Linked DNA regions of Homo sapiens. The protein of the gene in region 4 purifies or fractionates together with the protein of the main gene of each other region. This does not show direct contact. Each region holds a gene or a part of one and is shown on either strand. Other genes may lie near its edges.

Region 1 (3,500 bases), on a different chromosome or scaffold from region 4:
TAATCTAAGAGAAAGGCTGCCTTACATAATCATATAGTCTAAAGCTATATTATGAATGAAGTCATCCACCTAAAAAAAACCCATTTTTTAATTAGTTAGATGCAAGTTAGGTCAAAAAATGTTTCAGCCTTCAAACTAGCTCTTAAGAATTATTACCAAAACATGTAAAAATATGCCAGAAAAAAAAAGAGAAAACCCTGAGAAACACATGCCATAAAAATTACCTTCATACTCTCCATTTCTGTCAGCTCAATTTGAAGAGCCAGCATCTCTGAAGACATGCTTTCCTGCACACGTTCAGACATTACGCGCAGTTCCTCTGATTTACAAGAGAGGAGTTCCTTCTGATGATCTACTTGGTGCTTCAGCTGCTTTTCACTAAGCCTGGCTTCATCTAATTCCACTTTCAGTTTTTCTATCTAAAGCCAAAAAAAAAAAAGTCATAAATTGAAAGTTATTTTCTTTCTAAAAACAATCACTGATTGAACTGATTGAACCAAACTTACTGAATGATGATACTATTGGAGTTTCCTATTTGCCCAAGGTTAGGCATCTTTTAACAGCTAGTGACACACCTTGTTTAATAAACATAGAAATAATCCATGAGTAATCGGGGTGGGTCTGGATGCCTCAGAAGCAATCTGGAGGCACTATGATGCGGACCACTTGGCTACTGTGTGAAGAATGACTGGCATGAAGAGAAACAATGGAAGCAAGCAACCTGGTCAGAAGGCTACAGCAGTAGTCCAGGAAAGAGATGATGAAGGTCTGGATTGGAGTGGCAGTAGCGTCATAGATGTTTTGTAGGTCAAGTTCTTAGAACTTGATGAATTAAATGTGAAAAATAAGAGAAGAAAAGGTATTAAAAAAATCCAAATTTTGGCATAAGTGATTTGAGAAAATCAGTAAAACAAAATATTTCACTAATGTACTCTTTGCTCCACCAAAAAAAAAAAAAAAAAAAAAAGCCATCTCTATAATTAGCCTTACCTCAGTCCTGAATACTCCCTTTATTACTCTTTTTTGTTTAGGTGATGAAAACTATTGCAAAAATAAAAATAACAACCAGAGGGGGAAGAAAGCACATCATTATCAGTCATTAGGGCCTCAAATCCGACTAGTTTCAGACAAGCTGGATGATATTATCTGTCAGAGTGGTATGCAAGATGATTATATATTACATGAAGGTATATTTAGATAGCTATGTTTGTTTTAGTGTATACTGGGAAAAAATAAGCAAGCTTAAATATGTAATTTTGGCCAGGCGCAGTGGCTCAGGCCTGTAATCCCAGCACTTTGCGAGGCTGAAGTGGGCGGATCACGAGGTCAGGAGTTAGAGACCAGCCTGACCAACATGGTGAAACCCTGTCTCTATTAAAATACAAAAATTAGCTGGGCGTGGTGGCGCACACCTGTAATCCCAGCCACTTAGGAGCCTGAGGCAGGAGAATCGTTTGAACCCGGGAGGCAGAGGTTGCAGGTGAGCCGAGATCATGCCACTGCACTCCAGCCTGGGCGACAGTGTGAGACTCTGCCTCAAAAAAAAAAAAAAAAAAAAGGAAAAAAAAATACTTTCATTGATGTTTCTTAAAATCAGTAAACATTAAAAGAGAGTCAATGAGAAATTAAGTAATAGTATAGGTGGTATACAGAAAAAGAAAAATCTTAGAGGCTGCTATACAAGAAGCTGAAAATTGGGTAACAGACTTCTGAGAAAGGAGGACAAAAGTCAGGCAAGTTTTGGTAGACAGTGTCTGGAAAAGTCAGAGTATAGACTATACACAAAGCAGATCCATGATAAAAAGTTCTGGATTCCTCAGAAGCAACCTGAAAGCACTGGCTAGCTGGGAAAAGGGAAAACCACTGACCAATCATTTATCTTGCGTTTATGTTTGAAATGGAGCCAGTGTAACATGCTGTTAGACTATGTAGTGATTCAGTAACACAGCCTTTGGAGTCAGACAGCCTCAGTTCAAACCTAGATGGAGAATTTCTAGTTCTTGAATTGTGTCCAATTTACTCAGTCTGTCTAAACACTGGCTCTTTCATCTGGTATATGGAAATGATAATGGTACCTTTCCACAATATTATTGTAAGAACTGGAGCACATGTATTAGTTTATCCTCAGTAAACAAACTATAAAGTGTCATTTGTAATGCACATTAACTAGTAAGAAACTACTGGTCTGTTTTACAGAATTACAAAGCATACCACTGACTGCAGGGAAGGCTAGGAGACGAGGCTTTCTGCAAGGGGCTGCTGTACCCACTATCAGCAAGGAGGCCATGCTAGTCACTAAACTAAACCTTCACAAATATCCAGCAACCAAAATTAAATAATTGTATTTAATTAATAGGATATAATTTATACAAGTCCCTTAGACAAACTCTTGTATCTCAGTGTTCCCACCCCCAATATTAAGATAATGAAGACTTAGATCTTGGCTATTTTGCAAAGCTGACACTTAAGAAAATCTTTATCATCTAAAGTTTACAGATGGCTGCATAAATATGGAATATTTTGTGCTGAAATACGCAGATATCCCAACCTTAGTTTTTAGTTCATTCACTTCCTGTCCATGGCTTCTGCTTAGTTGTTCTTCCAATTTCTCCAGGTGCATTTTTTGTTGTTGTTTAATAGCTTCACATTCGCAGCTCAAACTTTCTAACATTCGACTCTTGAGTTCAACTTCTCTTTGAAGGGTATATTTTTCTTGTTCATAACTCTGAAAACAGATTCAATTACAATTCAATTACATAAAAATAGCCTAAAGCCATTACATACAATCAGTTTTCAACTTCAATTGTTTCATTCTTATTTCAAGCATTTGCTGCTTTCCAAATAACGAAGACATGTTAAACCTGGAATAACTTTGTAGTTAATCAGTCTTAATAAACCCCTGAGGTGTATTTCGAAACTATGTTAAACCCATGCAAGGGATACCTTACTGCTTCTGTGCCTTGTCAAGGAAGTAAAATGTGCTCCATGGTATGTCAACACGTCAAGTCAAGTAATCTCTGCTAACAACAAAAAAAGATTTAACAGCACTTAAGCTTTCCTCATGAGAATTATTAGTTTGATAATGAGATGCTCTACTTGTAGCTCTGAACACAATGTAGTAGTAATAATAGTTGAAAAAAAAGAAATACTGAATTAGCCTTTACTTTCAGAATGTAGTCATCTGAGAAATGTCACAAAAGGTCTATCAGAATGAATGCAGAGCTGAGACAAAAGGAGTAATTAAAAGGGCTTTTGCTTACTCACAGGGAAGTTTAGACATTAAAAATGTTACAAGTACGAACTCCTTCAAGAGGCTTTAAAAAATGATAAAATATTCCCCTCAAAAACCATTTTATTTTAAAGGAAGACAAAGAGTATTAACTGTTAAACACTGAAATTTGACAAGTTATGACTCAAAATGATTAAGTATAACAGTTTTATTTTCTATTAGTGATATTTGTAATCTTTACTTTGCCTTTATGACTTTGCACTCAGTTCTT
Region 2 (2,325 bases), on a different chromosome or scaffold from region 4:
ATTAATGTGCTGAACGCTTTTTTTTTTTTTTTTTTTTTTTTTGCAACAACACCTTGGACCTCTGTGTTGGGGTTTGACTGACCTCAAGCTGATATTATTGGACCTTGTGCAGCTTTGATAACCCATGTGAGAGTCTAGGCAGGACCAGTGGGGCCCAAATCTTGCTGCTCTTGTACTTTTAGGCACTGCCCTTGCAGACTCACCTTTCTCCACCTGCCCTGGAGAAAGGTAGGGTGTGCTGGGCCTGCCCCTTGCAAATGGGATTCACCAGTTTCATTTATTTGACTCTACTGCCACAGTGAAAAGAGCAAACAGCTATTGGGTTGCAAACCTCCTTTGACATTAGGAAATGTTGACTTTGTAACAATAAAACTTTGGTCCTAGAAAGACACGGTTGTCCTGGGAGTTTGTAGTGTTAAGTTGCAACAACAACAACAAAAAGCAACAAAACCAGCTTAGGATAACACTTTTTGTTGCTTGTTCTTAAAGATGTCTCACTATGATTAAAACCCTTTTCATTAATGTAGTGAAAGCCACACAGGAGTTCCTTCTTCCAGGAGGAGAATACCAAGCACATCACTTTCTCTCTGCATCAGTGATGTCAAATACGCATCAGAAAATGTTCAGGTTTTAGGAGCTGTCCTAGGTGCTGTTTCATCATTGGAAGCAGTGAGAAAGAGAAGCACTGCTGCTTGTCTGGATATAGGCTGAGGATGATTGAGAGAAGCTGTGGGAACTGACACAAGGGTCTGCATAGGTCATCCTGTGACCCTGGGGACTATGTTACCAACTGACAGACAGATCTTTCACTGTATCCTAGCAGGGCAGGTAGTCCACCAAGAAATGTGCTTATTGGATTGGGAGGTGTTTATTTGTAGTCTGCTGTAACACGTGTGAAAGAGCAGGAGCGTCATCAGCATATGACTTGCGCTGGTCATCCGGTAAATGGATGTGCTGTAGTCCCAGTGCTAATCATTTCTCTCCTTCACAGTGGGTGGAAGTTTAGGGTTAAATGTCCTTTGAATGTCACCTGGTGAGTCCTTGACACCTTAGGCTCTTCAGAAACAATGGTTTTGTTGAGGATGGGGAACAGGGAATGCCGATTTTATATACATGGTACACAGAGAGGGGTGTCACTTCAGAAAATCTTCCAGCATGTTCTTCAGAATATTAATTTATATGCGAGGTGAGGTTGGGAATGAAAAGAACAGGTCAGCACTTTTTTTTTTCCTAGAACATACAAAAGAACATGGTGGACTTTCAGGGAGTGCAATGGAAGGTGAATATTTCCTTAAGGGTCCCCGAGAAATGGGAGTGAGGGGAGGGGACACAATGGCTTTTTGAGCTTACTTTTACCTTCTGATACTAGTCAAGGTCCAGAACCAGCCACCAGCCAAATTTCTATCTGGGTGCGGGCCACTGAAAATCCTTGTTAAAAACCAGATCACAAATCTGGGGCTCTTGGTCCCATTGGAGAAGGAAGGAAGAGCCTCAAAATAAGTGTGCACCCATGCACATATTCAGGAACAGCTTGTTTAGTCTTTACACTTTGCCTGAAAGTTGCTTCTCCTCGTCCCTTTGTGTGCCTGGGTGGCCTCGGCCCTGTGCGTTGGCAACGCAGGATCAAATGTGCTGCAGCTTTTGCAGAAAACAACTCAGAAACACAAAACCCCCCAACAGCTCAATTATTATTTTTTCAATGTTTTCCTACAAGAGCCAAGTAGCACCATGTACAGAAGACGCCTTTTTTTTTGGAATATTGAAATCGTTCTGCATGTAAAATATGGGATAATGACCTGTTTATATTAAAATTCTGATTAAATTATCTGAGAATACGCTTGTTTTTGTGTGGTGTCCCGGTAAGGACCTGTCGTGTGGTCGGGGGATGTGGCTATGAGTTGGGCTGTGTTAAGGAAAACCTCTTGGAATATGTAGGTGCCTTTTTTTAGAGGAGAAAAACACCTAGATTCTTCCACACATGAAAAGGGAGGTTAAATAGTTGCTACCAGCAGAGTTGATGACTCGTAGGGACATACTTGTATGGCCAAACTGGTGGTTTAAATATTGCACTATTTCCATACCATTTGGTAAGTAAGCGCTTCCCCAAGGGCTCCCAGACCTCCCCATGGTCCAACCACTAAAGGGTTCACTCCGAGAATACCAATGAACCTTCAAGATCTTGCTCTATTCTGACATGCGGGAAACTCATATGTTAAGTATTTTCAATGTCATCCTGGGAGTGGAGACCTGTCCCAGGTTGGGTGGACAGGTGAGTGACCATGGGTTAGACCATGGGATTGAAAGCCTTTTGAATAGTCTTTCTTG
Region 3 (3,500 bases), on a different chromosome or scaffold from region 4:
TGGTGGATCTTGAGCTTCATTTTTATTCCACAAGCGTGAAAGGCTTTGATGATTTTTCAAGCAGGGGTGACGTGTACTGTACTTATGGCCAGGTGTAGTGGCCCACGCCTGTAATCCCAACATTTTGGGAGGTGAAGGCAGGAGGATCCCTCGAGCTCAGGAGTTCAAGACAAGCCTGGGCAACATAGTGAGACCCTGTCTCATCTCTACAAAAAAATACAAAAATTAGGCAGGCGTGGTGGCACACACCTATAATCCCAGCTACTGGGGAGGCTGAGTTGAGACAATTGCTTAAGCCCAGGAGTTGGAGGCTGCAGTGAGCTGTGACCATGCTACTTCACTCCAGTCTTGGCGACAGAGCCAGACCCTATCTCTAAAAAAGAAAATAACTGTATTTAAAGAATCAGAACTGTACCTAAAGAAGAATAATCTGATTCCCTTGTGGAGAATGAACTATTTATGAAGTTATTCAGTAGTCCAAGCAAGAAATGACCAGAGTCTGAGATAACGTGGTTGTGGTGGTAATAGAGAAGGGAAAATGGCTGTGACCAGGATGGAGAAGCAATAGGTTTTTCTGTGGGCCGCTAGGGAGAGGACAGAGCCAAGCATGGCACCAAGGGCACCAGGTTACTCCATCCTGAGTAACGTGGGAGCTAGTTGGTACCCTGGACGGAAATAAGAGTAGGAAAGACTGGGATGGGGTGAGAGGTAGACTGTTGAGTTTAAGGGGCCTGTAGGGCATGAAGACTGAGTTTTGATTTAAGAGAAAGAATAGAGTAGCAGAAATGGTACATGGAATGCCTACACAGAAGACCCAAGGCTGCGATGCTGGATACCTCAATTTGGGAGCTGGAGACTGGATATGCAGGATTGAGTTATTTGAGCTGAGAACCCAAGAAGGGCTGGCAATAGCTGAAGGCTTGAGTGTGTGTTAAATCTGAGAAGTGGAACCTTGACCTCTCTCATCACAATGGTTCACCTCCCGAGCCACCCCAACACACATACCCCTTTCCTTACCTGCTTTCCACTTCCCTCAGGCTGAGCTCCAAGTGGCACAACAGGAGAACCATCACTTAAATTTGGACCTGAAGGAGGCGAAGAGCTGGCAAGAGGAGCAGAGTGCTCAGGCTCAGCGACTGAAAGACAAGGTGGCCCAGATGAAGGACACCCTAGGCCAGGCCCAGCAGCGGGTGGTGAGTGAGGCCCCTTGGCAACAGGAAACGGGAAATTCCAAGGGCAAGTTGTAGAGAAGCCTGCGTGTCTAAAGAGAAGGGGAGAGACATGGCTAAAGACTAAACAACACAACCCCGAGTCCTAATGCAGTGGAGTGGAGGGAGCGTTTACCTCCCTGGCTGATGAATGATTCACTAGGAACTCTGATCTCCATCTCCTCCTTTCTCCTGAGGCCGAGCTGGAGCCCTTGAAGGAGCAGCTTCGAGGGGCCCAGGAGCTTGCAGCCTCAAGCCAGCAGAAAGCCACCCTTCTTGGGGAGGAGTTGGCCAGTGCAGCAGCAGCCAGGGACCGCACCATAGCCGAACTACACCGCAGCCGCCTGGAAGTGGCTGAAGTTAACGGCAGGCTGGCTGAGCTCGGTTTGCACTTGAAGGAAGAAAAATGCCAATGGAGCAAGGAGCGGGCAGGGCTGCTGCAGAGTGTGGAGGTAGAGGGATGGGGGGTACCTGGCAATCTGATGGCCACTGCCCCCACCTCTGTGGGGACTCCTACATGTGGTCAGACCCTCTGGGAGGAGAGAAGAGGGGTTGAGAACCTTAGAGGACTTGGGTGGAGAGGGGCTTTGAGGGAGGTACACTTTACTTTCTAGGCATGACCCATCCCTAACCGGGGTATCCCAATCCTGATCACCAGAGTACCTTCCTTGGAACAGAAACATTTTCTGTCCTAGACCCCAGGCCCTGCCATAATGCCCATTCCTGATCAAGCAGCACCTGCCGTCATGTCCTGTCCTTCATTCAGAGGGTATAGGAAATGAAGGCAAAAAGGGGAAAGTGCTCTAAAAATGATGCTTTAAATAAAGGAAAGGACACAGTAAGGGATGGTGCTGTTGACAGTGGCGTTCCTTTTTCTTCCCCCTCCACCCTCCCATTTTCCTTCTTGGCTATCTCTCAGGCAGAGAAGGACAAGATCCTGAAGCTGAGTGCAGAGATACTTCGATTGGAGAAGGCAGTTCAGGAGGAGAGGACCCAAAACCAAGTGTTCAAGACTGAGCTGGCCCGGGAGAAGGATTCTAGCCTGGTGAGGCATCCAGCCACCAAGGGTCCTGTCCTATGGCCTCCTGAGGCATCCATACCCCTTCTCTCTGTCTTGGGTATGGGCTCAGAAGTGCTAGGTGTCCACTACCATGTTGGGTGGCATTTCACTTGCACACGCAAGCCCTCATTGGTTTGAAATGTGCATTTTTTTCTGCTCTCAGGGCACACATCTGGGCCCAGTAGAGGTGACTTAGGAGAATTATAGAGTGGCCCCTTGGTATGACCAAGGCCTCTGCACCCCAGCCTAGAGGAAGTCATGCAGGTCCCCACTCGAGAGGCAGAGACTAAGACTTAGAAAACTGAGTATCTGTGGCCCAAGACAAAGTACTCATGGAGGAAGTGTTGGGAATTCCTGTGTGTGTGTGTCAGAGCAGGGAAGAAGCAGAGGCATGGGGAGACCTGGTTCTAGATTGTTGGTCCTGGTCCCAGAGTCCAGGTTCTTGGAGGTACATTCTAGGCTCCAGATTCCATTGGGCCCTCTTCCCTCAGGTACAGTTGTCAGAAAGTAAGCGGGAGCTGACAGAGCTGCGGTCAGCCCTGCGTGTGCTCCAGAAGGAAAAGGAGCAGTTACAGGAGGAGAAACAGGTGAGCACCCATAACCCAGGCCCCGTGGATGCCACAGGTGAGGACTTGAGGGCTAGAAACTTTGTAAATTCCTGTCATCTCTTGGCTTAGAAACTGTTCTCTCCAAGAGGGCCCGTACCCTGGCTTCTCTTATTAGCTGATTTGGCAGGACAGCGGATGATCTCTGGGAGAAGGGAGGGATGTAAGTGGTGAAGCAGGGGTGCTGGGGGGAGTGTCTGCCTGAAGTTGCCCCAATCTTTGCTGAAGGCATCTAATGCTGAGGAGCTAAGAGTTCTTCTTGGGTGCAGCTTCTGCAGGCTAGCAAGGTTGGCACCTTCCCATTCTCTAGCACCTGCCTTTTTCCTTCCCAATTCCAGGAATTGCTAGAGTACATGAGAAAGCTAGAGGCCCGCCTGGAGAAGGTGGCAGATGAGAAGTGGAATGAGGATGCCACCACAGAGGATGAGGAGGCCGCTGTGGGGCTGAGTCCGTGTAGCCCCAATCTTGTAACACCTCTTCCCCACTCTACCTCCCGCTGTTGAGGAAGGCTCCATGTAACCTTGCTGGGAGCTGCCTTTGCCTTCTATGTGTTTTGCCTTTTCTTTCCCAGACCCTGGCCCCTGTTTAGTCTAATGATACCCCTCATCCAGAGGAGACAGCTGGTCC
Region 4 (3,500 bases):
TCAATTCTGGTGTGTTCTTGCTCATCAAGTGGTCTTACTCATCAATTCACTTAACTTCCTGAATCTAATTTTTTTTTTTTTTTTGAGATGGAATTTCGCTCTTGTTGCCCAGGCTGGAGTGCAATGGTGCGATCTTGGCTCACTGCAACCTCTGCCTTCCGGGTTCAAGCAATTCTCCTGCCTCAGCCTCCCGAGTAGCTGGGATTACAGGCATGCACCACCATGTCCGGTTAATTTTATATTTTTAGTAAAGACGGGGTTTCACCGTGTTGGTCAGGCTGGTCTCGAACTCCTGACCTCATGTGATCCACCCACCACGGCCTCTCAAAGTGCTGGGATTACAGGCATGAGCCACCATGCCTGGCCTCTAATTTTTTTTAATCTATGCAGATACTACTTTCCCTGCCTAACTCACAAGATTGTGAAGTTAAATTAATACATTTTGGAAGGGATTTTAACTTTTTACATGTATTTTTCAAATATAAGGTGCCAGTATTATAATTTAATGTAATGTTTAAAGCTTGTTCAGTGTCTTCCCAATACAAAATCAGCCATCAGAACTGTGTTTCCGAACAGGGATTGGCATTAATGGTTTTGAGGTGTAGAAAACATCCTCTTAAAATATATTTTTAAAATATTATGACAAATTTTACAATGAGCAACCTGAAGAAGATTGGCACTTGTTAAATGTTACAGTTCTCCCACTTCAGAATGGAACTATCCATTTGCTTAATTTTTTTTTGAAATTCTAGCATTTTAAGATTGGAATAAATTAGAACAGGAAAACATGTTTTTCAAAATTATGTAGTTTTAAGAGTGGAATAAATATTAAATCAGGAGTTCTTAATCTTGGGTCCATTTATGGACGTTAGTAGTTGACCTGAGAACTCTCTAGAAATTACCATAAAAAAAAATGATGCACATATGCACATTTTTGTGAAGTGTGGTCCCATAGCTTTCACCACATTCTTAAAAAGATTGATGACCTTAAAGTTTACAAACAACTGGCTGGGCGCAGTGGCTCATGCCTGCAATCCCAGCATTTTGGGAGGCTGAGGCGGGTGGATCACTTGAGGTCAGGAGCTCAAGACCGCCTGGCCAACATGGTGAAACACTGTTTCTACTGAAATACAAAAAAATTAGCCAGGAATGGTGGCAGGCGCCTGTAATCCCAGCTACTCAGGAGGCTGAGGCAGGAGAATCGCTTGAACTCGGGAGGCAGAGTTTGCAGTGAGCCGAGATCACGCCATTGCACTCCAGCCTGGGCAAAAGAGTGAAAAACAAACAACAACAAAAAAGAAGAAAACAAAGAAGTTTACAAACTACTAACTAATTTAAAATATGATCAAAATTAAAAACCTAGCTTGTCTGTAGAGCCAGGGGCTGACAGTCTTGGGCCCAGCCTCTGGCCTCCGTGGGTACCCAGCTTCAGGCAGCTTGGCACCAAGCAGCGAGTGCCCAGCTATGTTTCATCCAGGAAAACTGCACCTGAGTACATGCCTCGTTCTCCACTTCATCTAAGCAAAGAAGAGATCCTACAAACAAGAATGTGAGTAGCCTCAGGTTCGAAAAACACAGGCTGCATTTTATTCACTTCTTACTTCCTCGTACCCAGCCCAGGGCCTGGTGACCACCAGACATTCTATATGCTTCATTAAATGAAATAAAAGAATGGCAGCCCCACTGTTCTGTTAATTCACCTAAATATTACTCTACCTCTCCGAACTTCGGTTTCCCCATTTATAAAATGGGGGTGAAAATAGAACCTTCCTTGTGGGACTGTTTCAAGGATGAAACAAATAATGCATGTAATCACATTTTGTGAACTCTACCTCACTCTATAAATGTAAAGACCCAGAAAATACAGAGACTGCTTTTGTGCAGCAACTTCTCAGATGTGCCCAGATATTATCAACATTTTAATGGCTAAAAAGGCCATGCCAGCTTTCCCACTGTGATAGTCTTCTATTCAATACAGTAAATATCCTAAATTACAGGCTTGTTCATGGAACTCCATAAAGATATTCTTCTTTTAAATGAAAGAAAAAGCAGTGACAAAACCATGTGCCCCTAAGTCATTTCCCATTTCCTGAATTGGCTCAGGTGCAAATAAGTTTGCTTGCCACTGCCCTAGACGGCTCAGAAATAAATTATGACTCTGCTACAATCTTCATTCTTGACATTGAACATTTGTTTGCTTCAGCATCTGGTAACAAAAGGGCTTCTCCTGGTCTCACATATGGAGCTAATAGCTTCCTTGATATATTAACTTTTCAAGATTAACACACACTCACTCTAATTTCTGTAGACAACTAAGAAAATGAAGAAGCTGGAAAAGGACACAGCCACATGGAAAGCCCGATTTGAGAACTGTAACAAAGCTCTGTTGGACATGATTGAAGAGGTGAGGAAGTTTCTCCCTTAGCTTTAATCCCCTCTGTCTAGTCAAAACATTCAAACTTACGATACAATTATAACCTGGTAATAGTACAAATGGTTATGTGTGAAAAAGAGTTGAATTTGGGGTGGCAGGATGTGACATTTTAAATTGTAATAAGTATAATAAGAGCAAAGGTCATTTAGAATCAGGTCCAGACTCAGAAAGAGTTTTGTGACCCTAAGTCACATGCTTACCTGTTGATTCAATAGCTGTACCCAGGGCAGCTGTCCCCTTTAAGGGCTGTGAATTCCTTAAAGGTAGGATGAGTGTCTTATTTTACTTTAAATTTCCCCAGTGTCTGACACATAACAGGTGCTGAATAAATTAATTAGTTGATTTGAACATACTGCGAGAAGACACCAGCCCAAGAGTCCAGTGCATGTGCTATTTTCTAATATAAACAGATATGGAGATATCTTTTTAATTCCTCCAATAGACATTTAAACACTGATCTCATGCCAGGCTCCAAGTAGGTTTTGAGAGTCCAAAGGCAAAGATACATGGCCCCTGACCTGAGAGGTAGGGCTTACAGGTGAAGGTCTCTCCATGTATAACGAGTGGGGGAAAAAAGGTCTCAAAGGGACAGAGTAGCTCAGAGGTGAGGTGAAGGAGTGAGATAATTAGGAACATTTTCATGCACAAATAGACATTTCTAGAGGAAAAAACTGAACCGTTTGAGCAGCCAGCATCGTGAATTAGTATATGGTGAATTTCTATGGTTATAATTACTGCTCTAACAATTCTTCTCAAATTGCAACCAATTCCAAAGAGATATTACTCATCAACATAAATCAAATGGCTGCTGGGATTAGCACATAGCAGTTTATTCATAGAACAGATAAGGAAGGCATTGCTGAAACCCAAGTCCCAATCCATCTCATTTATCTTGCCGCAAGTCTTGCTTCTACCTTCTAAGTCTCAGAAGCAGAAAATTCATCCATAAGATTTGAGAGGCTATGGACCAAAGCAGAAGGAAGCCTGACCATCTTTCTTTCCCAATGAACAGGGTATGGTGATTAAAGAATCTACCAGTCTAGTACACAATGCCAAAAAAAAAAAA

What was found. The genes of interacting proteins can lie anywhere in the genome.
Region 1: the proteins of TXLNB (region 4) and SPDL1 purify together in Homo sapiens (affinity purification with mass spectrometry; 2 studies listed by BioGRID and IntAct, with this or other methods). This does not show direct contact.
Region 2: the proteins of TXLNB (region 4) and INSR purify together in Homo sapiens (co-immunoprecipitation; one large-scale study listed by IntAct). This does not show direct contact.
Region 3: the proteins of TXLNB (region 4) and CALCOCO1 purify together in Homo sapiens (affinity purification with mass spectrometry; 2 studies listed by BioGRID and IntAct, with this or other methods). This does not show direct contact.

What each region holds. Positions count from the first base shown.
Region 1 is NC_000005.10:169,590,273-169,593,772, reverse strand, and holds part of SPDL1 (protein Spindly), read right to left. Parts: exon of another isoform or gene 2,944-3,500; intron 2,726-2,943; coding exon 2,549-2,725; intron 420-2,548; coding exon 225-419; intron 1-224. UniProt on the Homo sapiens protein: Required for the localization of dynein and dynactin to the mitotic kintochore.
Region 2 is NC_000019.10:7,111,765-7,114,089, reverse strand, and holds the end of INSR (insulin receptor isoform Long preproprotein), read left to right. Parts: 3' UTR 1-1,825; downstream 1,826-2,325. UniProt on the Homo sapiens protein: Receptor tyrosine kinase which mediates the pleiotropic actions of insulin.
Region 3 is NC_000012.12:53,713,953-53,717,452, reverse strand, and holds part of CALCOCO1 (calcium-binding and coiled-coil domain-containing protein 1), read left to right. Parts: intron 1-1,037; coding exon 1,038-1,193; intron 1,194-1,405; coding exon 1,406-1,660; intron 1,661-2,127; coding exon 2,128-2,253; intron 2,254-2,759; coding exon 2,760-2,855; intron 2,856-3,211; coding exon 3,212-3,320; intron 3,321-3,500. UniProt on the Homo sapiens protein: Functions as a coactivator for aryl hydrocarbon and nuclear receptors (NR). Recruited to promoters through its contact with the N-terminal basic helix-loop-helix-Per-Arnt-Sim (PAS) domain of transcription factors or coactivators, such as NCOA2.
Region 4 is NC_000006.12:139,243,499-139,246,998, reverse strand, and holds part of TXLNB (beta-taxilin), read left to right. Parts: intron 1-2,308; coding exon 2,309-2,404; intron 2,405-3,500. UniProt on the Homo sapiens protein: Promotes motor nerve regeneration. May be involved in intracellular vesicle traffic.